Regions from separate parts of the Homo sapiens genome. Here regions 1 and 3 are each linked to region 2. Evidence: fine-mapped expression QTL. A gene starts in region 2. Each other region holds a variant in brackets. All regions are shown on one strand. Distances are from middle to middle. Region 1 overlaps AIFM2 (AIF family member 2). Region 2 holds the start of PALD1 (phosphatase domain containing paladin 1). Region 3 overlaps PALD1 (phosphatase domain containing paladin 1).

The links. PIP is the estimated chance that this variant, and not a neighbour inherited with it, causes the effect.
Region 1: its variant is fine-mapped to the expression of PALD1 in prefrontal cortex (ROSMAP, PIP 0.95).
Region 3: its variant is fine-mapped to the expression of PALD1 in whole blood (INTERVAL, PIP above 0.99).

Annotation. Positions count from the first base shown.
Region 1 is chr10:70,115,842-70,125,157 of GRCh38, reverse strand. AIFM2 (AIF family member 2) reads left to right here. Exons shown (of 9, transcript NM_032797.6): 2 at 1,061-1,251; 3 at 1,638-1,753; 4 at 3,947-4,066; 5 at 4,559-4,651; 6 at 7,238-7,346; 7 at 8,384-8,536. The coding sequence starts at 1,074. Among named protein-coding and RNA genes, the nearest start is that of AIFM2, 12 kb to the left of the region's middle. The variant G/A (reference allele first, on the strand shown) is at 6,338.
Region 2 is chr10:70,472,891-70,482,600 of GRCh38, reverse strand. PALD1 (phosphatase domain containing paladin 1) reads right to left here and starts at 3,834. Exons shown (of 20, transcript NM_014431.3): 1 at 3,542-3,834. RefSeq lists enhancers at 1,220-1,861, 2,039-2,218, 1,862-2,504, 6,049-6,128, 8,867-9,633 and silencers at 3,499-3,948, 4,149-4,218.
Region 3 is chr10:70,537,739-70,547,448 of GRCh38, reverse strand. It overlaps PALD1 (phosphatase domain containing paladin 1), which reads right to left. Exons shown (of 20, transcript NM_014431.3): 11 at 9,543-9,638; 12 at 9,041-9,169; 13 at 8,441-8,557; 14 at 8,202-8,357; 15 at 7,687-7,869; 16 at 6,207-6,347; 17 at 5,915-5,986; 18 at 3-143. Among named protein-coding and RNA genes, the nearest start is that of PRF1, 60 kb to the left of the region's middle. RefSeq lists enhancers at 5,064-5,564, 8,486-9,171, 9,172-9,710 and a silencer at 9,570-9,710. The variant C/A (reference allele first, on the strand shown) is at 5,014.

The sequences.
Region 1 (9,316 bases), 360 kb after region 2:
AGAAATGTATTGGCTCATGGTTCTGGAGGCTGGGAAGTCCAAGATCAAGGGCCCAGTGTCTGGTGAGGGCCTTCATGCTGAGTCATCCCATGGTGGAAGGCAAAAGAGAGAGCGAGAGAGAGGAAGAGCTTGAACTTGCAGCCTCAAAGCCCTTTTATAATTGGTATTAATCCATTCATGAGGGTGGAGACCGTATGACCCAAACACCTCCGATTAGGCCCCACCTCTTAACACTGTTCCTTTTTGGGAGACATATTCAAACCCTAGAAGCAGAATTTTGCAGGATTCTTGTCGTAACCTGCTAATTGACCTCCTTAGACCTGGACCTTAAGTTGGTGACCTGTGAGCTGGGCTGAATCTGGTTGCGGTGTTTGTTTAGTGCAGTGCTTAAAGAATGTTTTTTGTTGTTCCTTTAGATGTGGCCTATGCTTGCTGGTTCCCCACAGGTGTGCCCACTGTTTCTTGTTATTGCACCTTTTCCCAGCTTCTCACATCATTGACATTGCCCACCTGGTTCTTTGACTTTGTAAGGTCTGCCCTTATAAGGGCAGGGACCATATCTGCCTGTCTGACCACAGGATACACAACACAGAGCATGTCAAAAAGCAGGAGTTCAATTCATATATGTTGTTGAGTGAACATTATTCCCCTCTTCAAAAGTCTTTTTTTTCCTCCTGCCCCACTGCAATCTCTCCCAAAAGTCTTTGATGGAATATATCAAGTAAAAAACAAATGTGCAGAACACTTTGTTTAATGGGTGCAAAAAATAATCGTGATTATAGTTGCATAAACTATCTCTGGAAGGAGTCATCCAAACTTGTTACGTAACAGTGGATGCCTCTGGAGAAGGGAACTTGGTGTTTGGGGAATGGGCTGGAAGTGGGATACCCCCTTGTTCCTTCTGAATTTAATTCAAATTTTATAAAATTGGAGTTTCATTAATCAAAGATTTACCTCATCTAAAAAGGTCAATTCATGATCGAGGCCTCTCTCACTGTGGGTCCTCCCAGCCCTCCCAGCCTCCCTGACTCTGATATGCTCTCCTCTTTCTTCCCAGCAGTGCCTGATTTGAGATGGGGTCCCAGGTCTCGGTGGAATCGGGAGCTCTGCACGTGGTGATTGTGGGTGGGGGCTTTGGCGGGATCGCAGCAGCCAGCCAGCTGCAGGCCCTGAACGTCCCCTTCATGCTGGTGGACATGAAGGACTCCTTCCACCACAATGTGGCTGCTCTCCGAGCCTCCGTGGAGACAGGTAATGTGCTCCCGTCTGGGGCTGTCTCTGTGAGGGGGGTCTTGTCTCTGCTCTGGGGCTTGATTTTAGGGCTGGGGGTGGTTTTCTCCATTTAGGGCCAAGTGCCTGCATTCCACTGTCAGACAAGTTCTGGAGAAGCTCAAGGTCTTTGGTCTTAAGTAGCCACCACAATGAGACCCTAGAAGTAAAAGCTTGAGCTTTTCTGACGGTCTGAGGCCCAGATTGGCATTTTAGGAAGTAGGGGTACCCCAGGCATACCTAATGGCCCGACGCTTTGGTCAAGGGCACCCCTGTTGGTTTGCAGCTCGTGAAAGGTTCTGAGTCACTCTGGCTTCCCGTGGGCAGCCTGGCTCTGCCCTATGACCTCTTCTGTGTCCCTTCCCCAGGGTTCGCCAAAAAGACATTCATTTCTTACTCGGTGACTTTCAAGGACAACTTCCGGCAGGGGCTAGTAGTGGGGATAGACCTGAAGAACCAGATGGTGCTGCTGCAGGGTGGCGAGGTGAGTGAGGGCCAGCCCGGCTGCCAGCTGGCTCAAGGGCCCTCTGCAGGGCCTGGGCGGGATCCTCCAGGGTCAAGAGAGAGCTAGGCTGGGGGCGGTGGCTCACACCTGTAATCTCAGCACTGTGGGAGGCCAAGGCGGGCGGATCACCTGAGGTCAGGAGTTTGAGACCAGCCTGCCCAACATGGCAAAACCCTGTCTCTACTGAAAATACAAAAATTAGCTGGGTGTGGTGGTGGGCGCATGTAATCTCAGCTACTCAGGAGGCTGGAGAATTGCTTGAATTCGGAGGTGGAAGTTCCAGTAAGCTGAGATTGCACCACTGCACTCCAGTCTGGGTGACAGACAGAGACTCCATCTCAAAAAATAAAAATAAAAAAAAGAGAATGCTGTCTGTGAGCCCCAAGCCCTGCCTGGTGCTGGGCAGATAGCGGATTCCTCATAAACAAAGGCTTGACCACAGCAACCACAAGAATATGGTGGCAGATATTTCTTGTGTAATTCCTGCATGCCAGGCCCTGTTTGTAGCCTTTACGTAAGTCTCATGAATGTTTACCGTGCCTCTATGGCGAAGGTGGTATAACTTCATTTTACAGAGAAGCTAAAGGGTTAAATGGCTTGCTTAAGATCCCACAGCTGGTAAGAGACTGAACTAGGATTTGAACCCATGCAATTTTAGCCCAGAGCCCATGCTCTAAAAGCCAGCGTCCCAGACAACTCCCAGGCCTGGCCAGCCCTCGGCTCTGTCTAGAACAAAAAGGCACACGCATGGTCCCACATCCCCCGGATCGGGACGTCACTGGGGCAGAGGTTTCCCTTCACTCATTTGTGTGTTCCCCCACCTCACATGTGCATCATGGAGCCTGGAACACACCTGCCATGACTTCAGCTCCATCGATAAGCTGCCACCAGCTCTGGATGAGTGTCATGTCCAGCCCAGCCCCATTTGGTGTTTGAAGCTAAGGGGGCGTTGACAAAAGGAAACACAATTCCTTTCCTTGATGAGTTGTGATTTCGTGTGACCCAGCCCTTCTTGAATTAATGGGGCCAGATAGTTTCCTGGTTGGAAAGATTACTGAGTGTCCCCTGGTCCTGCAGTCTCCAGCCATGCGTTTCAGAGCCCTGGAAGATTCCATGAGGGCATCTTGGAGGTTCAGGGGAAAGTAGGGGCTGAGTGGAGTCCAGGCCCTCCAGCCCCTCCCATTGGAGCAGCTCTGTTTTTGTCAACTTTATATATTTAGGCTCCAAACAAGATTTCCTTTTCTTTGTTTACAATTTTTTTAATTAAAAAAAAATTTTTTTAATTGTTTTTGAGATGGAGTTTCGCTCTTGTTGCCCAGGCTGGAGTGCAATGGCATGGTCTCGGGTCACCACAACCTCTGCCTCCCAGGTTCAAGCGATCCTCCTGCCCCAGCCTCCTGAGTAGTTGGGATTACAGGCGCATGGCACCACGCCCAGCTAATTTTTGTATTTTTAGTAGAGATGGGATTTTGCCATGTTGATCAGGTTGGTTTCAAACTCCTGACCTCAGGTGATCCGCCCGCCTTGGTCTCCCAAAGTGCTGGGATTACAGGTGTGAGCCACTGTGCCCGGCCTAAAATTTTTTTTATTTTTAATTTAAAAAAATTAAATTATTTTTTAATAAAATATTTAATAAAAATTAAATTATTTTATTATTTATTTTTAATTTAAAAATTAAATTAATATGGGGTCTTGGTATGTTGCTCAGTGCAGTGGCTGTTCACAGATGTGATGCCACTACTGATCAGTCTTTCTTTCTTTCCCTTTCTTTTCTTCCTGGCGGAGGCAGGAGGAGGGTTCTTCTAAAACACCCGGGAGGTTCTGAGCTAACTCCCGTGGGCAGTGTCCTATCCTGCAGCCCTGCCTCCTGCTTCCAGGCACCCCTCCCACTGCCATGCTGGGTGGCTCCAGTTGCCCCCACATTCTCCACGCGGAGGTAAACTCTACTTCCTTAGGTCTTTCCCCAGGTTCTAGTGCCATCCTTTGGGCTAACCAGTGTGGTGGTTTCACCCCCTCCCATGGGGGCTGCCTCGGGTGCCTAGAGGGGCCTCTTTGCCTGGTTTGTCCCGGCTGGCAGGCCGGGAGTAGGATGCAGAGGCCTAGGCCTGCCCTGCCCTGCCCTACCCTCATCTTTTTTTTTTTTTTTTTTTTTTTTTTTTTGGTTTCTCTCAGGCCCTGCCCTTCTCTCATCTTATCCTGGCCACGGGCAGCACTGGGCCCTTCCCGGGCAAGTTTAATGAGGTTTCCAGCCAGCAGGCCGCTATCCAGGCCTATGAGGACATGGTGAGGCAGGTGAGCTGTGCACTGAAGGCATGGGGCAGTGTGGGCAGATGGAAGGACAGCCTTGGGGATGCCTAGGCCTGCAGCTGGGAGGCCACGGGGTTACTCAGAGCTGCTGGCTGTAGCCATAGAGTTGGAGAGTCACTAGGAAGAGACTTTCCTGGGAAGAGACCTTGAACTTGCTGCTGGAGCCAGGATGTGAGCACCCTAAACCTGCTCATGTTGCCCTTGGTATGTCTCTGACTTTCCTCTCCTGGGGCTTTTCACGGGTCCCTTCCACTCCTGTTTTCATAAGGCTCTGTTTTGTAGAGCAGGCTTAGATCCACAATCTTCCACAGCAATTCTGCGAGGTGGGTGGGAGGAAGCACGTTTGGACTCAAAATGTGGAAAGGGTTCTCTGCCCTCCTTTGGCCCAGGGAGCCACACCACAGGCTGAACCAGCAGACAGAGGTGGATGTGTAGGTGTGTTTCATATGTCCCTGTTTCACATGTCCTCTTCTCCAGGTCCAGCGCTCACGGTTCATCGTGGTGGTGGGAGGAGGCTCGGCTGGAGTGGAGATGGCAGCAGAGATTAAAACAGAATATCCTGAGAAAGAGGTGAGCCAGGCTGCCTTGCCTTGGAGCTCTAAGTGGTTGGCTTTTTTCTGCATTATCTTAGGAACATCAGGAATTTGCTCAGGGCAGAGAAGTCTGGAGCTCTATTCACATAAACTGGGAGTGTGTATTTCTGTTTTGTGCCAAGGTGTGATTCTATAGGGGATTTTTCCTGCAGAGCTGGGATCCTGCTGCACCTGACCTTACGGAGCTGCTCAGGGTGTGTCCTTTCTCAAGGAAAGGTCCTGCCCTCTGCTCCAACTTGGAGGATCAAGCCCAGGGGCAATACCTTGCAAAAGCGGAACTTCTGTGTCACCTTCAGAATTCAGGCCTTTGTGATACAAATGTATATTTGATTACCTCTTGCTGGCAACCAGTATTTGATTACCTCTTGCTGGCAACCAGCTTGGACAAAGACACCTTCAGTTGTTGCTTTGGTCTCTGCCTGATATGGTAGCCCCTGCTCTGAGCAGCCCCATGGTGGTGGGGAGCCTGCAGCAGAGCCCTTTCTGCCCACGCTGGGCAATGACTGAACAGCACTGCCTTCTGCCCATGGGTGGGAACGGGGAGGGGACATCAGCCTGCCCTGTTGCTTTCTCATGCTCAAAAGACAGAGATCCTACCGGGCAACCTAGCGAGAAAGAGGAAATCCTGGCACCCTGTCCAGGCTTGGCAAGGGCTGAGTGAGAAACGTCCTTACAGGTCCTCTAGGCGAGAGCTTGCTTGCGGTTGAAGCCAGATCGGCTTCTGAGAGCCATGTGGGGCCTCTGAATGGATCTTTCTTCCTCAGGGAAAGGCAGGTTGGTTTTGAAAAGAAAAATCAATAGAGGATAACTTAATTATATGGCTGTTCTCTGACAAATTGTTGGAAATTATGATGAGTGATTGATCTAGTTACATTCATTCATTTTGATGTATGAGGGTTCTATAGGGAAAAACCAAACTGTTTTTCTCCCTACTCACTCCACACTTCTGGGATAAGATGTGTGGGTTTTTCCCCCACTGACCAATTCTCTGACACCAGCTGGGTGTCCTACGGTTCAATTCAATTCTGACACTACCTGGCGTTAGCGCAGACCCCACAGGTCAAGGGCTCAGTCCCACGATCCTGCCCCGACTTCAAACACCAGTTGCAAGTCCATAGGTCCCCAGCTTACCCACGCTTCTGTCCCACTTGGCTACAAGATAGAGATTCTCATGACTCTCTCCTTGGGTTAAATAATTTGCTAGAGCAGCTGATGGAAGCCAGGGAGACAGTTTACTTGCTGTTGCTGATTTATGACGAAGGATGTTTTAAAGGATAAAAATGAACATTCAGATGAAGGGGCACATAGGGCGTGGTCTAGAAGGGTCCTGAGCACAGGGGCTTCTGTCCCCATGGAGTTGGGGTGCATCACTGTCCTGGCATGTGGACATGTTCACCAACCTGGAAGCTCTCTGAACCCTGTACTTTAGGGATTTTTATGGAGGCTTCATCAGGTAGGCAAGGTTGATTATGACCTCAATCTCCAGCCCCCTCTCGTCACTGGAGCTGAAAGTTCCAGACTTCTAAGCTGGCTTGGTCTCTCTGGTGACCAGCGATCATCCAGGAGCCCATCAGGAGTAGCTTCATTAGAACAAAAGATGCTCCCATCACCCGGGAACATCCAAGGAGTTAGGAGCTCTATGTCAGACCCTCCCATCACTCAG[G/A]ACATTACAAAGATCTCAGGAGCTCTGTATCAAGAACCGGCAATGAGGACCAAATATTAGAACAAATGATTCTTAGTACCCCAATTTACAAGGGTTTTAAGAGCTCTGCATCAGGAACTGGGGGCAGAGACCAATATATACTTTTCTTCTTATTTCACAGGGGTCAGACCAGTCTGAAGTAGTAAAAAAGTTCAAGTAACTCAGTAAAATATCCACATGTTTAGGATTTGTAGACAGTAAGGGTAGTAGCAGCCACCCTTTATTAAGGACTTAATATGTGCTGAGTTACATGCTTTGTACGTATTTTTTTGCTCATCATTACAAAATTCCTATGAGTGGGGCTATTGTGCCCATGTTAATGAGCCTTTGGGAGGTGTCCAAGTGAGTATCAGAGATGGGATTTCAACCCAGGCAATTTGATACCAAAGCCCAGGCTTTGAACATGATTGCAACATGAGGTGCCCGGGACGCTTCCCTGTGTTGTCCCAGACAGCAAGTAGACATGCCTGGAAGCACTAATTTTAAACAAGCTTTAATGTTGACATCAGTCTGATTGACTGTTGGAATGCCCATGGCTTGTATAATTATAAGTGCCCAAGGATGCTTGAAGATAATTTTCCAGGTGGCCCTAGGTGAGGTGTAGGTTGTGACATGTTGGCATATTGGTAGTCCTCTGGCCTGGGTGTGGCAGGAGGGTACTGAAAGAGTCCTAGTCTAGAACATGTGGGCTTAAGCCCAGCTCACCACTAATTGGTCCTGGCATTGGACAGATTACTTCTCTGGAGCTTCAGTTTCCTCATCTGTAACCTGGAGGTATGAGTGGAGGTGGACGTTCGTGCAATGATTGTGTTTGAAGACTTGGGGGCTCCTTCTCAGGCCCTGTGGTCGTTTTGTCCTCAGGTCACTCTCATTCACTCCCAAGTGGCCCTGGCTGACAAGGAGCTCCTGCCCTCCGTCCGGCAGGAAGTGAAGGAGATCCTCCTCCGGAAGGGCGTGCAGCTGCTGCTGAGTACGTGCACCCTCACCTCCCTCCCTGCCCTGCCCTGGCCTGGTGAGATGTGGCTTGGAGGCTTGGTGACTGCTTCCAGCAGGAGGGTGGCTATGGTCCACCCCAGGCTCTCTCTTTTCCACTGTGTCCTGGGGTGGAGCATGAAGCGCTCAGAAGAGGCCGTGAACATCAAAGCCCATCTGAGCCTTGTCCAGCTGGAAGTTGTGCCCGTCCCTGGGCAGGGAAGAGGGCCTGGTACTTACGGGATTTCCATGTCCTGGTTATTGCTTTGGATGCAGTGCAGATGGTGGGATGCCTGTCTGCTGAATGATTTTTCTTGAGTGCATCTGAAGGATTTGCCCCAAATAGGATGTCTCTGTGGTTGAGGGAATAGGTTTATTGGTTTATGTTTTGAGAGTGGTGAGGAGTGTGGCCTTCTTGTAGAGCAGGGGACGAGACCCACCCAGCAAATGCTGGAAAGTGAGGTTCTCTTCCAGCGCTGTGGCCCCTACACTTCACTGCATGGGGCCCCAGCCCCCTCACTGTTTGCGGGAGGGTGAGGCACCTGTCCTGTGAAGGGCCCGCATGGCTGCCTCAGCCTCCTTTTGGTAACTGGCTGTGGAGTGCTGCCGTCACTGTCACTTTAGGCAGTGAGTGTAGCGAGCTGGCTTCTCTTTCTCTGGCTTTCCCCTTTGTCGTGGTGCACTTGGAGCGCTCGTCCTGCCTAGTTAGGATGGCACGGCTGGCACTCATAAGAGGCGCGTCTGAGATCTTCCATTAAACAGCTTTTCTGAGAACTTCTTGGGAAACAGCCTCGCTTCCCTCCAGGGGCTTCTTGGAACTTTTCTCCAGAGGGACCCCTCGGGGCCAGATGTCCAGATCAGCTTTGTGGGGCATAGAGTGGACTGAGGGAGGGGCATGGTGGGAAGACAGGGTGCAGCCATTGCCCAGTTGGGCCCCAGAGGTCCAGGCCCTCCCCAGGGTTAGCCTTGGCCTGGGGTCCAGGCTTGATGGGGTCCCTGTCCCCACCAGCCTCCTGGTCATGAACCCCCTTCTAGGTGAGCGGGTGAGCAATCTGGAGGAGCTGCCTCTCAATGAGTATCGAGAGTACATCAAAGTGCAGACGGACAAAGGCACAGAGGTGGCCACCAACCTGGTGATTCTCTGCACCGGCATCAAGATCAACAGCTCCGCCTACCGCAAAGCGTTTGGTGAGCAGGTGCCCAGCCGGGCTTCCCCTGTGCCTCCTTGCTCTCCAGTACCCTCTGAATGCCCTGCAGTGCTTGCCCCCAGGAGTCCACACCTTGCTGCCTTCCCCCTTTCTTCCCAACAGCTCAGACTTTAAATTCAGTGAGGGTCCACCCTTGCTGAGCTCTCCTCAGCTGTGACCATGGCTCGGCCCCAGGTGGCCAAGGTGACCAGAATCTTCTGAAATTAGGGCCGCCCCCTAGTGGTAAGAGATGGGAACAGGCGTCAGAGAGATGACAAAGGTTGGTGGTGTTTCTTTCCCCCTCACCTGAGGACAGAGGAAATTCAGGGTCAGGCCTTCCTCTCTTGGCAGGCGTGCTGCCGCCCCCAAACCCAGATCAAAACATTTGGTCTCTTGAGCTTGGATTGACTGGGGAGTGGGGTTGGTAACATGGCCTCGTTTCTTAAAGCTCAGTATTTGCGTATTTAGCTGGCTGGAGGTGGCAGAGGTGGACTGATGTGTGTTTAAGCCTCCATTTGTGAGCAGGAGACTCAGTGGCCAGGCCTGGTGGTTGCTTTGTGTCCTCAATTCCCTGTCATTTACTCCCAAATGCCCTTCCCTGACAAGGAGCTCCTGCCTTGTGTCCAGCAGGAAGTAATGATCCAATCCCAGGAAAAGGAAGCCAGTCCAGGCTGTGTGTAGCAGTGGGATTGAGGGCTTATAATGGACAGAGATCCCAGAATTTAATACCAAATTGTCCTAATGTTGTATTTTCAAATACAAGTTTTTAAAAGTCCCTTTA
Region 2 (9,710 bases):
AAAGCCCTGAGTGGAAAAGGAACTCAGGGATTATAAAGGCCAGTGCTTCCAGACCTTCTCTTTCCCCGGGTCCCAGCCAAAGGCCTCGGAAGACAAACAGAGCCTCCTCCCAGACTAAGCCTGCTGCTCCCAGGCTCAATCCTGTGCTGAGCACCAGTTACAGGAAACATAAAAAGTCCATCTGCAAGTGCCTTGGCCCAAGACAGGGGCAGCACATGGCTGGGCTGCCCTCTGGGAAACGAAAGCCATGATTTGGGACTATTCTTAGCAAACACTGGCTCCCCTCCCAGAGGCCCAGCAGTCAGCAGGCCCAAGCTTCCATACGCCCGCCCAGCCTGCCATTTCCTGACCCCGTGTATGGAGGTCCCACAGGGCTAAGGAGGGACTAGTGGGCACCGACTGAGGACAAAGCCCTCCAGCTTTCACAGGAGAGGTGCCTGGCCCACCCAGCCTGCTCCAGACCTCACCCAGAGGCCCAGGGCCATGCACCTGGCTGCTGAGGAAGCCCTGCAGAGTCCTGGCCACAGGGGATGGCTCATAATCAAAGGCCCCCACCGCCACATCAACTGAGCACTCACTCCATGCCATGCACTGGGCCACATGCTTTGCACTGATTTTCTCCCACTGAACCCACAAGGAGGTAGAGGTTACTGACCCCACTCTAAAGATGAGGAAACCAATACATTAATTGACTTGCTGGAGGTTGCATGGTGCATTAGTATCAAAGCATATCTAGAATCTGGGCTGTCTCTCAGGTGCCAGGTTGGGCAGAGGAGACCTGAGCATAGCCAGGTGGGGGACCCCTTCCCTGTGCAAGCCCACGGCTTAGCAGAGAAGGAGCCCGCCCCAGAGGGCAGTGGCTCTCATCACAGACGCAGCTACATGTGTGCTCTCTCTCTCACCTGGGGGATCCCTGTCAAAGACCCGCAGGCTTGGGTTCAGAAGGAGAATCCCCAGACAGTTCCTCTCCTATTCTGGTAGGAAAGGAACAGTTGGAGCACCCTACCCAGGCCACACAGCCTCACTTCAGGAAGCCTCTGGAGATCCAGGGAAGATGAGAATCAAAATTCAAAGAGCACCTGCTGGCACTTAAGGCACAAACACAGCCTTGTAATGCAGAGGTGGAGAGGCCAAATGACTCTGAGTAAAACACAGGAGACTGAGCTTTTTGGGGTCCTCAAACCCCAAAGTGAGAGTCTAGAAATAAGCTCCACCACAGAGCACCTGTACCATCACCACCCCAAACAGGACAACTTCCGGGCACTGTGCCACGCAGGGAAACAGTGATAACCAGGCAATGCACGCCTCGGCCTACCTCTCAGAACCCACCTGTGTCTGGTTCCTGGCCTCTGCTGTCCGCTGGCTCTGGCAAGCATATGTGTCTGTGCCCCCCAGGAGCTCACAGCCAACTCCATTCTGCCCAGGCACTTGAGCGGCTTCCCTGTGGCTCCGAGTCTTTTGTCTGGGAATGTCGGTTCCCATCCCCGTCTGTGCTCTGCTGGGTCTACCTATATGTCTGTCCACTTACATGTCTGCCTCCCATGTGGGGAGATTCAGATCCCAGCAATGGTGTATTTCTATGTACGTGTCTGCAGCCCATACGTGGCCCACGCTGATGGGTTCATGTATGTCTGTCCCCGCACATGTCTGTGTCCCTGGGTTGTTTGCTCACCCCCACCATCCTCCTGTGTCTGTCCTCAAGTATATATGTATCCAGCTCCTCTACGTCTCTGCCCACACAGATGTAAACCTGAGCACACACACGCACTCACGTCTCTGCCCACACGGGGCATCCCCCACAGGTGCCTGGGTAACCCAGGTCTGTGCACCACCTGTTTGGAGGCAGGCAAGTGTGTTCACACAAGTTCTCACAGTGCCAGCCAAGGGCTTCGGGTGAGCTCAGCAACTCCCACTCCCAGAACTGCACCCAAGGCCACGAGCATGAGCACACTGCCACCTCCACGAAGTGCTCCAGAAAAACAGAAACCTGCCAGGGACAATGAGGGAGGGGGCAGGGCCCCAGATACAGCAGAGCCTCACAGAAGTGAGGTCAGAGCTGTGCCAGGAACCACCCACCTCAAGCCACCTGGGCCCTACTGTGCCCACCCCCAACACTGGCCAGGAAAGGGAGGGGGGTGCATGCACCACCTGGGGTCTGTCTGCACTCATAGGAAACTGGCCCAGTGCCTGCCAGCCTCCCGACCTACCCCAACCCCCCGCGACAGAGGCTCTTCAGAAAGGAAGTGAGGACTTCCTCCTGCTTACCTCTGAACCTCCTACAAGGCTGGCTCTAGACCCCAAACCCCAGGAGCCACAGGGCAACTAGGAGTGTCCTGTGCTCAGCCCAAGCCAAGAAACCAAATGGGTTATTTCAGAAATCCACCAGCAGGAAACAAACAAACCTGGGAGTGGGTGGGGATGAGTGCAGGAGAACCTCCTCAGCGCCCCTGCTGCTCCCTGCCCTTGGAGCAAGGTAATAAGGAAGGGCGGGCATGGAGCTGGAACATTTCAGCACATTTGCTTGCTTGCATGGAACTGGATCTCTGCTGCCCTGGCACTCTCGCAGCCTACATTACTCACATAGCAATTAATGGTGTGTAGCCTCTTGGCTTTCCACTATTACCAGTTCAGGACTGGTATTGAAACCCTGTATCGGGGAACTTTGTGTGTTTATGTCCTGTCTTGCCCCCAGGGGCTGAGCCTCCTGAGGACAGAATCCTCCAAATCCTCCTCCATCCACACATTCCAGGGGCACGGCCCAGTGCCCTTCCTGGCATTTAAGAGGTGCTCGGCCACTGGGTTCAGGTTACTCTACCCAGAAGCCAAGGAGTTGGTTCCTGGGCCTCTGGCTGGGAGAGTAGAGATGCCCAGAAGATTCCCTGGGCCATGAAGCTTTACTCCCATCTCTGACAACCCAAGAGAAAGGGCTCCAACCATCCCGGCCACCTTCAGGAGCCGGGTCTCCCATAGGCCACTCTCTCTCTGACAGGTTACTGCCCCTTCAGGAAAACCCTCTGAAACTGAAAAACGTACTCTCCTTGGAGACCCGGGCCTACAGAGGAAGAGGGCCAGACTGGGCCAAGAATCAAAGCCTGTGCCCGCTGAGACTTCTGGACTCGTCCTGGGTCTGAGGGCCTCACGCCCCCTAGAGATGAGTCCCAGGACCCCATCTCGGTCATGAAGCGGCTTCCCTCTCCCCAATCTCCCCCTAACTTCGCGGGAAACCCTAGCTCCTGGCCATGCTCCCAGGTCTGGCAATGAAAAGTGGAATTGTCACCAGGCCATGCCTACACCAAACCCAGGGAACTCGGGAGAGGGGGTAGCCCAGGGTCCAACACACACAACCACCCAGCAACTGCTCCCTGTGAGTCCCTCTTGCCTCCCAGGGACCAATCCTGAGCGGGTGTGGGGTGAAGGCCCAGGACCTCACCTCTCCAAAGGATGGGGAGTTGGTGTCTGGAGCAGCCTCGGGCTGGGGGGTGCCCGGGGGATTCCAGATTTGCCCTCCCCTCGCCAGCCCCAGGGCAGGACACTTCGGTACCTGCCAGCCCGCGGCTCCGGGGGGCATCCGTGCTCCTGCGGCCGGCGTGCTGCGCCCGAACTGCGGGCGCCGAGTCAGGCAGCGACGGGGCGCGCCCGGCGCGCGCTCTGGCTCCAGCTCGCTCCTCCCAACTTCGCCAGCCCATGCGGGGGCAGAGGTGGCTCCGGAGGTGGGCAGGCCAGGCGGACCCGGCGAGGCCACGCGAGAGGGAGCCCGTGCTCACCGGCGACGGGACCTGCGCGCCCCGGCCCGTGCGCGCCGCGCTGCTCCCCAGCGCCCCGCTACCCAACGCCGAGGGGCGGACCCGACCCGGCCGCCAATCACCGCGCCCGCCCCCGCCCGGACCGCGAGTCCCGGCCCCACCGCGAGGGGCGGGGGGCTCAGATTTAAAGACACACTCAGCCCAGCCGCAGCCCCCGGGCGGGAGGAACGCGGGCGCCACGTTCCCCGGCTGCGCTTCCTCCCTCCGCCCGCCCACCCTCCGCGAGGAGGAAAAGTTTGGGGCGGGGGAGACTGCCCGGGAAGCCAGTTCCTCTTCCCTCGTCGCTAGTGCGGCTCCTTCTGGAAGACACCCAAACCCGACATCCAGCCTCCTGGCTGCGAGAGGCAGCAGCGCTCTGGGCGCCACACCCCGTCCCGGACGCCGGCTACCCGCGACACCCGCTGGCCCGGCTTCCCTCGCCCCCCTCTGCTTTACAGCCAGGCCGAGCCTCGGCGGGACCGAGCCCAGCATCCGGGCTCCGGGCCGGCCTCGCTGTGCAGTGCGGCCGGAGCTGGATGATGGTGCGCTCTGCACTTTTGCCTCCCACGTGTCGAAGGGGAGCCCCTAAACAGCAGACGGTCCCCCCAAGCAGGGGCTTCTCCCACGCCCCGGGGTCCTAAGGAAACGCGCCCCTCGGCCCCCAGAGGTGAGAGGGGAACAGCAGAGCAGAGCTTTGGATGGAGAGGGGTCCCTCCGCCCCCACCCATCATGCGGCTCCAGGCAGTGACCCGCACCATAGGCCTGCCCCCCCCACCACTCCTCACCCCACACGCGCGGACTAGCACTAGGCGGCAGCCAGCCCGGCCCACTCCGACGGCCCCGCACGCCCCCGCGAGCACGTGGGTGAACGCACCCACGTGCGTGCGTTCACTCTTCGCTGTGCTTCCTCGCGGAGAGATAGGCTTTGTTGTGGTTGGTGAGTCACTTCCTCCCTCTCGCTGCTCCACACTCGGGAAATCCTTTTTTCTCACCTGTTACCACCTGCCTCACCCCCATTCAGGACTGGAGCTGGATTTCGGCGAGCTGGGGTTGCCCCAGGATGCAGGCAGTGTAGGCCCCACCTCTGTCAGGCTGGAGAGCGCTGGGCTGGGAGAGGGGAACACATTCCCCATGACCCCTAAGAATAACTGAAGACAAGAGAAATCACTCATTGTGGTGGTCTCACCATGTCCCTAGCACCTAGCTCTTAAGTGCCTCGCGAAGTTATAAGGTCGGTACTTTTCTGATCCCTATTTTAACAAATGAGGAAACAGGCCCAGGGAAGACTTGTCCTCAGCTCCATACCTGCTCCTGCGCCACCCAAGGTGTGTGAAAAGGACAGCAGCAGAGAAAATCCCATAGTGGCCTTGGGAAACAGACCTGACCTTCAGAGTTCAGCAGAGCTAGGCTCAAAGTGGCTCACAATTTACTGGCTGTGTGGTCTGGGAAAAGTGACGTAAGTTCTCAGATTCCCAACTTCTACATCCATAAGATGGCTTCATCCTCCTTCAAAGAGGTATTTGAGAAGCCAGTGAGCTGGGCAAGTAATGTCCAGGCATCGTGTGTGGCACACTTTAGGACTCCATCCTGGGCCACAGTTTCCTTCCTTCTTCCTCTTGCCACAGCCCCATATCCCATCCCACCAGCTGTCAGACTCCCCAGCTGAAGCCTGCCATCCTGAGGATGCATTCCAGGATAATGTCCTCTTCTAGGCCAGGACTAAGGTAGGAGCAACATGTGTGTGAGCAGGTGCAAAATATACATTTACATACATGTGCATGTGTATGCACACATGTATACACATACATGCACATATATGTATACAAATATATACATAAACATGCATACCTATAGGGATGCATGCACACATATATACATACAGAAACATAGCACATACACATATGCACATAATACACACATACAAATACACACACTTTGCTTCCCCTCACCCTCCCTGCCCAGCAGATGCTGGGATCCACGGCGGTGTGCCTCTCTAGCTCCCAGAGAACAAAAGCTATGTCCTACCTGTGCCTGACCTGTCTTTTGGCCCACAGCACAGTGCCTGGCACGTCTCCATACATTCATTTGTACTCACCACACACACAGTAGGTGTTCTTGTTGAACCAAGCAGAAAAGCCCAGGACAAAGATGTTCTCAGGACAGCCTGCAGTCACAACCCTTCTGGATCTAACAGTTAGCCTCAGGGTTCAGCTGGTAGGTAGGGGGCTGAGGGCTTGGAGGTTCCTCAGGGTCAGGCCACAGACTGCATCCAAACCACAGTGCCCAGCCTCACCAGCCCACCACCAGCCCCCCAGAGGGCCTGCCAAGTCCCTACTCAGAATAGCGAGTCCTGCAGCCCTGGCTGTCTGCTGGCTATGGGGCTAGAAAAGTCCCAACCACAAGAAAGATTCAGTCAGATCTGCCCCACCGTGGGCCTGGGAGGGGAACAAGGACTGAATGTTGAAGGAGAGAAGGCCACAGAGCAGCCCTGGGTACACCCAAGAGAAGGCATCCTGCTCTCTCCCCAGCCCCAGGCAGAACGAAAGAATCAGTCGAGCCAGCTCTCAGTTGAGCCCATTTGAGCCTCTCAAACTGCAGCAGAAGATTCCTGAGAAATCTGGAAGCTCAGAGCAGAAGCCCAAAATCCCCTGAGAAAAGATTCATGGGTCCCAGAACAGGATCTCAGGAAGGAGAGAGGTCGGGACTGACCCCCACTCACCCAGCACTCCACCAGCACTGCCAGCACCCACATCCCCCACACACAAACGTCCAAGACACCATGTTATCATGCTTGTATTGCTCGTGCGTGAACTCATATTTGCAGGGATCCATGTTTGTGCAAGTGTCTAGTGGGAGTGAGTGTGGCTTTATAAGTGAGCATGTGTGTATGTGTGTGTACGTGTAGCACACACACAAAGCACCTGCAACCGTCCAAAACCAGACAAGCTGCTGCTGCAAAGAATATGAGTAACCTGTTACTCACGCCCCGACAGACTCGCCTGTGGCCATCCACTGCCCCATCAGCCCAAGCAAGGTGCTGGTGCTCTTGGGAGAGAGCTCCCAAGTTCAGTTCCTGGGCAAAAACATGAGCTGTGGGAACCCCAGATTCCCTCCAGGGAACACTCAAGCCAAAAATGATTTCCTGACAGGCACAAATGACTCGCTGGAAAGCAGAGGAGCTGGGTTCAAACCAGCAAAGATGAATCTTGATCAAAGATGGGAAACAGGCCCTTGCTGCTCTTCTCTACTCCCCACTCTTCCCTGACATCTGCCACAGCTGAGGGACACTGGACCTGAGGAGTGGACAACATCAGGACATGGGCTGGCCTTGCTCCTTGTGACCACCTTACTGCCAAGAACAGGGATCATGTGCACCCTTCAGGGTGGGAGTCTTGTGGCCTGTGATTTCGCCCTGAGCCCAGTGGTCTCTGAGCCTCAGGCAAACTCATCCGTGACGCCTGAATCCCAACACAGACGGATCCCCTGTCTGCCCTGGCCATCCGCCCTTCCAGGCCCACTGCCCCATCTCCAGCATCCAGCACTCCCACTTTTTCAGCCCCCTTCTGTGTGCAATCCTAAAGACAAGGGCTTTAAGCAGGGCAGACCTGGGCTTGGATCTAGCCACAGCAACTTTACCACCATGTGACCCCTATGCTACAAGTTACCACATTGCTCCAAGTCTCCTCATTTGTAAAATGATGCAAAGAGCAGTTCTTGCTTCCTGGGAAAGTCTGGAGGATAAAAGGTGCTTGGCACTCAGCAAGTACTTACTGATGACTGCTGTTCCTGTCATTACTGTTGCCACCCAAGCTCACACCATGACCTAGCCCTGAACCTGCCAGGGCAGAGGGGTGTTTGGAGGCTGAGTTCAGGTTCCTCCTCCAGGCAATTTGCCTTGGACTCCTCCCCTATCTGCCCATGGGATCTCTGTCCACTCTGGAATCCTTCCCCTCCCTTCCCTGCCAGGCCCTGGGACCTGAGCATCCCCATCTGGCGCAGGATACATGTTCAGTTATCGGCATCATATTATGGGCAGGATTATTCATTTTATTGATTATATCCTTCTTTGGGTCTAAGCCTAAGGATTACGTCCCCCGACTCCCAAATTCATACACAAGGTTCAAACCTTTTTTTTATCAAGACCCAAAGTAAGAAATACATTTTACACCAGGGCCAGCTACACAGATATGTGAATGTGTGTTATTCACAAAAAAATGCTTAGCCTTACTGCATTGGATGCATCCTGCTTCCTTCCTTCCTTCCTTGGACAGAGTCTCAGGCTGGAGTGCAGTGGTGGTGGCACAATCTCGGCTCACTGCTGCCTCCGCCTCCTGGATTCAAGCAATTCTCCTGCCTCAGGCTCCCGAGTAGTTAGAATTACAGGCGCCCGCCACCACGCCCAGATAATTTTTGTATTTTTAGTAGAGACAGGGTTTAACCATGTTGGCCAGTCTGGTCTCAAACTCCTGACCTCAGGTGATCCACCTGCCTCGGCTGCCCAAAGTGCTGGGATTACAGGTGTGAGCCACCACGCCCGGCCCTCTAATCTATCTTATCCTATTTCTTTTTGTTATTGCTGACTGCAGGGCACTACACTGATTTTGCCCGTGACCTCCAGTTTGAACATGCTGCACAGAACAATGAGGTTCCTAAGAGCAGGGACCAGATCTTGCTCCCCTCCCTCCCCACAGGACCACTTAAGGGCCTGACTGAAGAGCACCCAGGACATGTGGCAGGAGCGTGACTCTAGCTCCAGAACATTCTTCAGGTTCTACAGAGATGCTCCATCAGATCAGGAGAGAAAAGCAGGGAGGAATCCTGGCTCATTCATTCCACGAATATTTCATTCATTTATTTAGTCAGTCAGGCCGGGTACTGTGGCTCACACCTGTAATCCCAACACTTTGGGAGGCTGAGGGGGGGGGGGTGGATCACCTGAGGTCAGGAGTTCGAGACCAGCCTGGCCAACATGGCGAAACCCCGTCTCTACTAAAAATACAAAAAAATTAGCCAGGCATAGTGGCGTGCGCCTGTAATCCCAGCTACTTGGGAGGCTGAGGCACGAGCATCGCTTGAAACTGGGAGGCAGAGGTTGCAGTGAGCTGAGATCACACCACTGCACTCCAGCCTGGGTGACAGACTCCGTCTCAATTAAAAAAAAAAAAAATTAGTCTGTAAACAAACATTTATGGAGCCCCTTCTATATTCCAAGACTGTTCTATCCCCTGAGAAGTGAATGAGGCAGACAAGTTCCTGCCTTCATGGAACTGACATTTTAGTGGGCTGGGAGGACAGTAAACAAGTACACAACAAAAAAAGAAGGATCATTTCTTCTGGTCCCTGCAGGGCTGTCGGGGAGAGAGTGAGGGTCCATAGATAGACAGCTGGCCCCTGTCTGAGGGAGAGCTGCTCAAGCATCCAAGCTCCATGTGGAAATGCTCTTTAAGTGCCCACTATGTGCCTGACTCTGGGCTCAGGACACAGAGATGAATAAGACCCTGCCCTGCCCTCGAGGTGCTCACAGACCTGTGGGAGAGGCAGACAAGTCACGGATCATTTCAGAGCCCTGTGTTTCCTGCAGAGTCGGGGTGGGGCCAGGGTGCTGGGGAAGCACGATTGGTGGCACCCAGCAGGGCGGGATGCAGGACCTTCCAGGTCAGCTAGGGGTGGGGAGACGTGGGTGCATTCAAGGGCCCTGCCATCTCTAGCAATGTACGGAGGTTTGTTCTGGCTTCTGCATCAGACAAGACCTGAGTTTTCATTTGGTTTCTGCCACTTAGCTGTGTGACCTCAGGCAAGTCACTTAATGTCTCTCTGAGCCTCAGTTTCCACATCTGTAAAATGGGGATAGTCATACCTACCTTGACGAGTTTTGAGATCAAATGAACTAATAAATTTAAAATTCTTAGCAAATAGCTGTCTGAGAGG
Region 3 (9,710 bases), 65 kb before region 2:
ACCTGGCGGTAGGTGCAGATGATGATCTCCCGCAGGTGGTAGTGCATGGGCGTCATGGTCTCGCTGACAGTGTCCAGCGCTGCGTCCACCTCCTTCTTCACACGGTGCCCATCGGGTAGCAGCTGCACCACCTTCATTACTACCTGGGGCCAGAGAAGGGGGGTGAGCAGACATAAAACTGGTAAGAGCCCTCAGCCCAAGCACCAGGCTTGCACCCTCACCAAAAGGCCACACCAGGCCTAAGGCCCAGGCGCTGAACAGAGAGCCCTGCCTGCTCCTCAGTTCTCAGACTGAGGGAGGACAGGGGGATCCTGAACATCTCCGGGGCCAGGCTACCCAGATGCTTTTCTTTTTCCTCCACAATTGGGATTTATTGGTTGTGTTGAGGATCAGTACACAGACATTGAATTTGTACCGAATATCTAAAAAAGGCATGGATTATGATTCCTTTTTAGTTATTCCATTGACATTTATTGTTGTTGTTGTTGTTGTTGTTTGGAGACAGAGTCTCACTCTGTCATCCAGGCAGGAGTGCAGTGGCATGATCAGGGCTTACTGAAGCCTCAACTTCCTGGATTCAGGTGATCCTCCTACCCCAGCCTCCTGAGCTGCTGGGACTAAAGGCCCATGCCACCACGCCTGGCTAATATCTTGTACTTTTAGTAGAAACGGGGTTTTGGCATGTTGCCCAGGCTAATCTCGAACTCCTGGGCTAAAGCAATCCACACCCTTGGCCTCCCAAAGTGCTGGAAAGTTATTCCATTAACTTTCCAGCTTAAAATTTGGAGGCAAATTGTTCTTTAAGAAGATATTAAGTACCAGTATTTTCAAGTGTTGATAAACTGTGGCATAAGCCCCACCAATCCACAACTTAATGTCTTGCACACTACACAGATTTTCAGTGTCCAAGCACATCAATAGAGTTACTAGGAAAACGGGACTGCCACAGCCAAAGACATCACAGAGTGCACACAGTTCTCACAGGAGAGCCACAATCAAGAAGTGGTTTACATTAGAAATAATTCTACAAAAAAAACCATGGGAATATAAGTCATTTAAGATGTTCAAGACATATTAAATGCACGACTGTGACTCCAAATTGCCATTTTGTATGCTTTGTATTACATGATACAAAAACCACCCCAATGCACCCATGGAATGTTAAGCTGATCTAAGGTGCTTATTTTTGTTTTGTTTTGTTTTGTTTTGCTTGAGATGGAGTCTCGCCCTGTCACCCAGTCTGGAGTGTAGTGGTGAGATCTCGGCTCACTGCAACCTCTGCCTCTTAGGTTCAAGAAATTCTCCCGCCTCAGCCTCCCGAGTAGCTGGGATTACAGGCACCTGCCACCGCACCCAGCTAATTTTTGTATTTTTAGTAGAGACAGGGTTTCACCATGTTGGCCAGGCTGGTCTTGAACTCCTGGCCTCAGGTGATCCACCCGCCTAAGTCTCCCAAAGTGCTGGGATTACAGGCATGAGCCACCACGCCTGGTCGAGGTGCTTATTTTTTAAGCAGTAGAAATCCTGCTTCAAATGAGGCCTCATGCAGAACTTTGATCTATAAAACAGATAGCTGTCACGTACTAGGGCTGGAGGGGTGAGGAGGGGGTGTAAGAAGCCTCCCCACCCTCCTCCTAACCTGCAGCAGCCCCCAGCCACTGCGCAGACGCTCAGAGTTGGACACCACTCATCTGATATAATTCCCCACCCCAGCCAGGTGCAGTGGCTCATACCTGTAATCCCAGCACTTTGGGAGGCCGAGGTGGGGAGATCGCTTGAGGCCAGAAGTTCAAGACCAACCTGGCCAACATAGTGAGACCCCATCTCTGAGTAATAAGAAAAAGAAAAAAGAAAAAAAATGATATAATCTGCCCCTTACTGCTGGGAAAACTGAAGCCTGTTTAGGTTACTCTATGGCTTTTCCCCCACAGGCCCTCCCAGCCACCCTGTGCTGAGTTCCCCTCCAAATCTGTCTACACTGCACCTCTCTACAGCTGGCACCTGATCCAGACCCCCATCCCCCTTTGCCTCCACAGCAGTACCCTTCTGACCAGCGTCTCCACCTCCTCCCCGCCCTCCCTCTCCCTGGTGGCCAGAGAGGTCTTACGAAAGTATAAATGTGAACCCATGTTGTATAATCCCCGGGCTTTGATCTCTTCATGGCTCTCTTACACTCAGCACAGAAACTGGGGTCTAAAGGCTCCCCGCACCACTGGGTCCAGCCTACCTCTCCAGCATCACCCATAACCCCTCCCACCACCTACCCCCACCACCCTGCAAGGTCCCCACAGCGCCCTGTCCCGTGGTCGACAGCCACCTGCTCATCTGCTTCCACTTTCACACCTGCTCCCCACTAAGTGAGGGGCTTTCTGCCGGCACCTGGAGTGGTGCCTGGCACCTGCCCGGTGCCCCAGCATCAGCTGCCCAGTGAATGAATGAACACCTAACTCGCTCTCTTCTCTCTCTGGCTGCCACTTAAGAACAGGGAAGGGCCTTTCCCCAACTCCTGCGTTTCTCAGAGTCCTGGCCTGGTGCTGGGCACCCCAGCAGGCATGGAGTTGCAACCAAGTGGGAGGAGAAAAAGGAACAGTCTGGAAGGAACTAGTGGCAGATCTGGCTCAGGCTGTGCCCAGGGGAGTAGGAGGGAGCTGTCCAGTCCACATCCCCAATCCCAAGCTCTAGGCAGGTCCCCAGGAGGGTGCAGGGAACTGCGTCCTCTGGGGGCCACCTCAGACAGAGGGCTGCAGCTCTTCACAGGGAACCCAACTCCTGGCCTCTGCTGCAGCTGTTCCTCCCCTGAATTCCACATCGACAGCTGTCACTACTGCAAAGCCAGAAACTCGAGGTCATCCTAGGTGCCCTCCTCACCCCACATCCAGGAGCCCTCAAGACCTACCAATGAGGACTGGGCTGCTCCTGCTCACCCTGCAGCCCCTCCTCACTCAGCTCCTGCCTCTCCCTCCACTCCCCAGTCCACATATAACTGCCTGCTGGGGCCCCCAGACTGAGAGCCTGATCACAACCTCCTCTGCCTCCCTCCTGGCCTCACGGTCAAGGTCAAACACATAGTGCAAACCTCCAGGGCCTTCACAATATGGGCCCCCACCCCTCAGTCCTGCCTGCTTCCCTTCTGACAAATCACAGCCTTACATAGTTCCTGCCCTTTCCAGAATCCCTCCTTTGCACACTTGATCCCTCCAGACACTCCCCTCCTCACCAAGGATACTCACTCATCTTCCCCAAAGGCACTCAAATGCTGCCTCCTCTATGAAGTCCTCTCAGGCTCCCTCAGCTGCACTCTTGGCCCTTAGAACCAGTGTCTGCTCTGGGCCTCTTCACGCTCTATTGATCCTTTCTCCCCAACAGACTGTGGGCTCAGCAAATGCTGAACTAATTGCAAAGGAAGCTGGTCTAGATTATCTGGGGGTGGGTGAGGATAGGGTGTACAGGGGTGTCTTCAGGTCATATGATGTAACTTTGGAACACAGGCTCTGAGGTCTACAGCCTGGCTTATACCCCAGCCCCACCTCTCTGATGTGGCCCTAGGGTAATAAACTTGTCTCCCCAGGCCTCATTTTCTCATCTATAAACTGGGAGCAGTAAAAGCACCTACCTCCTGGGAGCTGGGAAAGGGGACAGAGGGAGTACACACAGCTCCCAGCACGGGGCCTGGTGTGAAGAAGGAGAGGCCTGACCATCACATTCAAGGCACCGATGCAAAGACTAAACTCAGCTGGAAAATAAAACCCTTATACATATGGTCAACTGGCTTTCAACAAGGGTGCCAAGACCCTTCAATGGGGAAAGACAGACTCTTGAACTAACGGTGCTGGAAAAACCAGATATCCACATGCAAAAGAATAAACTTAGATAACCCTCACCTCACACCATATAAAAAAAACTAACTCAAAATGGATCAAAGACCTAAACCTAAGAGTTAAAAACTATAAAAGTCTTAGGATAAAACACAAGGGAGAAGCTTCATGACATTGGAGTTGGCAATGATTTCTTGGATATAGCACCAAGGGCACAGGCAACAAAAGAAAAAACAGACAAACTACATCAAAATTAAAAACTTTTGTGCATCAAATGACACTATCAATGAGTAAAAAGTCAGCCCACAGAATAGAGAACATATTTACATATCACCTCTCTTATAAGTGATTAGTTTCCAGAATATATAAAGAACCAAAACTCAACAACAATCCAATTCAAAAATGGACAAAGGACTTGAACAGACATTTCTCCAAAGAAGATATACAAGTGGCCAATAAACACATAAAAAGATATTGAACATCACTAATCATTAGAGAAATGCAAATCAAAGCCACAATATACCACTTCATACCCAGCAGGATGGCTATTATCCAAAAAAAAAAAAAAAAAACGGCTGGGCACAGTGGCTCCCAGCACTTTGGGAGGCCGAGGCGGGTGGATCATCTGAGGTCAGGAGTTCGAGACCAGCCTGGCCAACACGGTGAACTCCCATCTCTAAAAAAAACAGAAAAAAGAAATCAAGTGTTGGTGAGGATGTGGAAATATCAGAACCTTTGTGTGTTGCTGGTGGGAATGTAAAATGGTGCATATACTGCGGCAAACAGCATGGTGGTTCCTCAAAAAAGTAAACAGAATTACGATAGGATCCAGCAATTCCACTCCTGAGTATATGCCCAAAAGAACTGAAAGCAGGGACTCAGCTACGTGCACTATGCATTTCATAGCAGCATTACTCATGACAGCCAAAAGGTGGAAGCAAATAGTGTCCCTTGATGGAGGAATGGAGAAACAAAATGTGGTCTATCCATACAATGGGATATTATTCAGCCTCTAAAAGGAAAGAAATTCTGACACATATTACAATGTGGGTAAACCTTGAGAACATTATGCTCAGTGAAATAAACTAGTCATAAAACACAAATACTGTACGATTCCACTCATAGAAGATTCCTAGAGTAGTCACATCCATTGAGACAGAAAGTAGAACAGGGGCTGCTGGGAGGGAGGATGGGGAAT[C/A]ATTACTGAATAGGAGAGCAGAGTTCTGTTTTGCAAGATGAAGGAGTTAGATGGGTTGTGGCAACAGTTGCACAACAACGTGAATGTACTTAACACCACTGAACTGTACATTTAAAAATGGTTGAAATGGTACATTTTATGTTATGCATATTTTACCACATAAAGAAAAGGAAAAAGGAAAGAATCAGAGAATCAGCCAGAAGAAGGAAGGGAGAAGGCACCGCATATGCAAAGGCTGCAAGAGCTTAGCAAGTGTGAGGTGCTGCATGGCGGTCAGGGCCTCAGGACTGGGGCGAGGGCAGGGGAGGGGCAAGTGGCGAAGTTAACCAGTAAGACACGAGCCAACTGTGCTGCTGACTGTGGGTCAGCCATGGGCCAACTCCGAGGGACGTTGCCACGACTCTCGGGATGCCTGAGAAGATGGCCTGTGGCATGTGGCAGGTGCACAATACATGGATGACTAAATCTGGAATGTTTGTGGCTGGCCATCCAGTGCCCTAATCTGAAATAGAGGAACAGGCAGGGCAAAGTAGGCTGGGGACCCACACAAGGTCACCAACCACAGCTGGGTTGAAGGTGCTGGGAGGTTGTTATCAACATTACCCAGACAAGACGGTGGCCAGTGACCTCCCCAAGGCACACAGCAGCCCAACAGCAAGGCCGGGCAGGGAGGGGTCCAGCCCACATCTCCATAGCCGGCCGTCTGCCAGGGCCTCAGAGCCAAGCTGTCCCATGCCTTGCTGGGCTCATCTATAAAATGGGAACAGGGAAGCACTGATATGATGAGGTGGCAGACGTGACTGCATTGGGACGTGCTTTGAGGACCCCTAGACCGGCAAGCAGGAGTCCTCCTCCTCCTCCCATCCCAAGGTGCCTCAGGGACCCCGCAGGGCATGCTCACCTGAAATTCACCCTTAGTGAACTTGGCATCAGGCACACTCACGAGCTCCTCCTCACCCACCTCGGGGAAGCCCTGAGGGAAGACAGCTGCTGAGACAGAAGCCCCCTCCCAACGCCAGGAGCCCCTTGCTGGGGAGGACTTGGGGGCTGCCCAAGACTGATGGAAGGGGCTCTGGGACCACACCCGGCTGTCTCTGCCCCTCACACCCTCCTGTGGAGCCAGTGTGCCTGGGACCTGAGTGTCTACCCTCCTCCAGGCAAATCTCTAATCTCACTTGAGAGGCCACACGTACTTGGATGTGCCAGAAGGCCAGGACAGCCACCACCATCGCAGTTGTGGTACGGCCCTGGCCGCTGAGGCAGCTGAACACGAAGCCAGTGCCTGGGTCCTTGGAGAGGGCGGCCCGCAGGGCCTCCAGCAGCTGGTCAAAGTCCTGGACGAGAAAAGCAAGGTCTGGGTCAGCGGGCGTCTCTTGGATGCACAAACCCCAACAGGGTCCCCATCCACATGGCAGCCCCAGCCACTGTCCTCGGGCCAGAAATTGTCAGGCTCCCAAGCTTGCACACACAAACAAAACTCACCGGGGTGCATGAGACCATGTGCGTGTAAACAGCTGCACCTGTGCAGTCGTAATCACCCTCACACCAAGCACCTGGACAGGATGTGTGAGCCAACACAGCATGCACCTGGGGCTCAAGGTACCCACCCTCCATCAGGCAGGACATGCACCTGTATGTCACCCCTGTGTACTGCGCCCCTGGGCTGCACATAGACTGCTGGCCCTGCCACCCACCTGAGCTGGACCCAGCCCTGGTCCCACCATGGACGGGGGCCTGACCTCAGAAGAGCCCTGCAGCACAAGGCCACCAGGAGGCAGCAGACCGCAGGCAGTGAGAGCCGCGAAGAGATGCGCCAGGAGGGGCTCAGGCAGGGTAACAGACCCCATTGCCAGTTACACAGCACACAGCGACCCACCTACAACACACGCACCACGCACACGGTGGCTCACCTACAACACACGCCAGACACACGCACCACACAGGGATCCACGTCCGGTAAACACACACACTATACAGACACCCACAGTCACAGACCTACAGATGCCACACACACACATTCCTAACGACCCCTCCACAAACCCTACCACACACCACACCACTCCCCTAAAGATGGTTTTCCACACACAGCCCCCAATACAGACAAGGGAGACATCACAAACTCCATAAAAAGACATGCACACACACACACATTCCACACACCACCCACACACTCCATACACAGTCCCCCAACTGAGACACACACACCACGGACACCCTGGACATGTTCACCCTCAACACACACACACACCTTATAACAAATACACACACACACCTGTAACAGAATACACACACACCCCGATAACACACACACACCTATAACACACACCCATAACACAATACACACACATACACCCTACAACATAATAAACACATGTACACACATCTTATAACACATATGCACATACGTAACAGAATACACACTCCAATACACACACACCTATAACAATACACACACATATACCCTATAACACATAATAAACACACGTACACACACACAAAGCTTGGAAGGAATGTGAATAAACCACTTGGGCCAAATCGGAAAACCTCGTGAGACCATTCCCGGGCCCCGTAGAGAAGCTGGGGTCGTTTCATTCTCCCAGAGCCCAGACCAGAGGGGAGACAGGGAGGCCTCCTGTCCCTCCCCAGAGGCCTCAGCCTGAGCAGCACCCTCACCTCCTCTCGGGGGGCACAGAAGTCCGGCATGGGGATGCGGTGGTAGGTGAGGCCAGGACAGGCCCTGCGGTGCTGGCTGAAGACCTCCTGCATGGTAAGGCAGGTCTGGAACCTGTAGGTCAGGGGGCCCTCCTTGCCTGGGGGAGGCTCGCTTAGATGGGCCTTCAGCTGGGCCTCCAGGGTCTGGGCAAGGGCAGGAGGGAGGACACAGGCCACTGGGGCAGGCTCTAGGCTAGCCCTGAAAGGCCACAGCCTGCCATGGCCAGGCCTGGCCCTGGCTTCCAGTCCCATCCCTGACCCCCCCAAGCCTCAGGGGTCACAGCCACCCCCCAAAGCCAAGCAGGTTAGCAGAGCACTTTAGTGGGAATCCTGAGTTGGCCACTCCCTGACACTGCTCCTCCCGGGGCCTCAGATTCTCCATCTGTCTGCGGGAGTGTGAGGCCTTCTGAAGACCCTCCCAGGCCACTCCCCAGAAGCCTCGGAGGCAGGGGTGCCTAGAGGGCAGGGGGCCTCACCTCCAGCTGGTCAGGAGCCACAGGGGGCCCAGGCCACCGCAGGCTGTAGGTGTGCCCGTCACACTCCAACACGGCCTCCTCCCGAAGGCTCACCCAGACAACCTTCCGCAGCCTCCTCTTGGCGTCCGTCAGGTAGGCCAGGATGCTCCCCAGGGCCTGGGCACAGGAGGGCCGGCAGTGAGTGCTCAGCCCTCCCTCCCCAAACCCACTGGGGGACCCAGGCCCTGAGGGCCGGTCACCTTGGCGCTGGGCTGGGCCGTGCCGTAGATGGGCATGCGGGGCACCCGCCGGAAGTTGGCCACATCCATCTCTCTGACAGTGCTGAGCGCGTCCGGGGAGACCAGATCGTCCTCCCGCTGTGGGGAGAGCACCAAGCCTGGGACCCACAGCAGCCGACTGTAGCCGCAGAAAGGGTCAGGACCTGGCCCAAGGCAGACGGGGGGTGGGGTGGAACCCGAGCTTCACAGTTTACAAAGCACTCCTGCACACTTGGAGCTTCCCCCGGCCCTGGCAAGAAGAAGTGCAATGGTGCCCACTCTCTGGACCAGGAAGCTGAGGCTCAAAGAGAAGAAGCTGGAGGCAAAGATCATAGAACCCTGCCCAGAGCTCTTGGGTTTGAGACTGAGGAGAAGGTACCAGAACAGCTGCCAAAGCTGCAAATGCTTGCTGGGGCCTAAGCATGACCCCATTCTGTTCACAAGAGGATCCCAACACCCACAGCCTCTCTTCTTCACCTCCTGCAAGGGCAATGCTTACCCCAACCCTACAGGAATCCAGTGTTTAGGGGCCAGGGCCAGTACACAGCCATGCCCACTTCTCCGACTGCCAGTCATACTCACTAGGGAGCCCCTGGCGATGAGGTCCCTCGGAGCCACAGGGCCTGCTGAGCTCAGCGTCACGGGCAGGCGGTACAGCTCAGGGTGGGCACACAGCCAGCGGCTGAAACTGAGGGCAAAGGCCAGCGGGTACTGCAGCCCGAGGCAGAGAGACGAGGAATTCAGGGGCACAGGGCCATCCTGAACCCTCCCTGCCCACACCATGGCAGGGGAAGCCCCAAAAGATATCCAACATGGCCCAGAGCAGGGACAAGGGAGTGGCTGAGAGAAGACCTGGACGTCTGGTGTCCTGGTTAAGGACAGAGACAAGGGCCCGGTGGAAAGAGGTGGGGCCTCCCTATGCCCAGCTGCTCAGGGACTACTCCCGAATCTGGGTCTCTCCTGGCCTCCCTTCCCTCCCCGGTTCCTTGGGGGGTCTCCCTCCACAGCAAGCCAGTCACTGCGGTGGGGAGGCTGGGAGAGGCCCAGGAGGAGGGGACGTGGGTCTGCTCCTCCCAGGCCCCACCTGCTCATGAAGGTAGTAGTTAAACAGGATCAGGTAGAAGTATCGCTCCAGGCTCCACAGCGCCCTCTGCCAGACGCTGTGTCGGCTGCCGCTTCCCTGAGAGAGAGGACAGGGTGTTAAGGACAGACTCCTCAGGCAGTCTTGTCCCTGTCCCCATCCCTGCAAGGG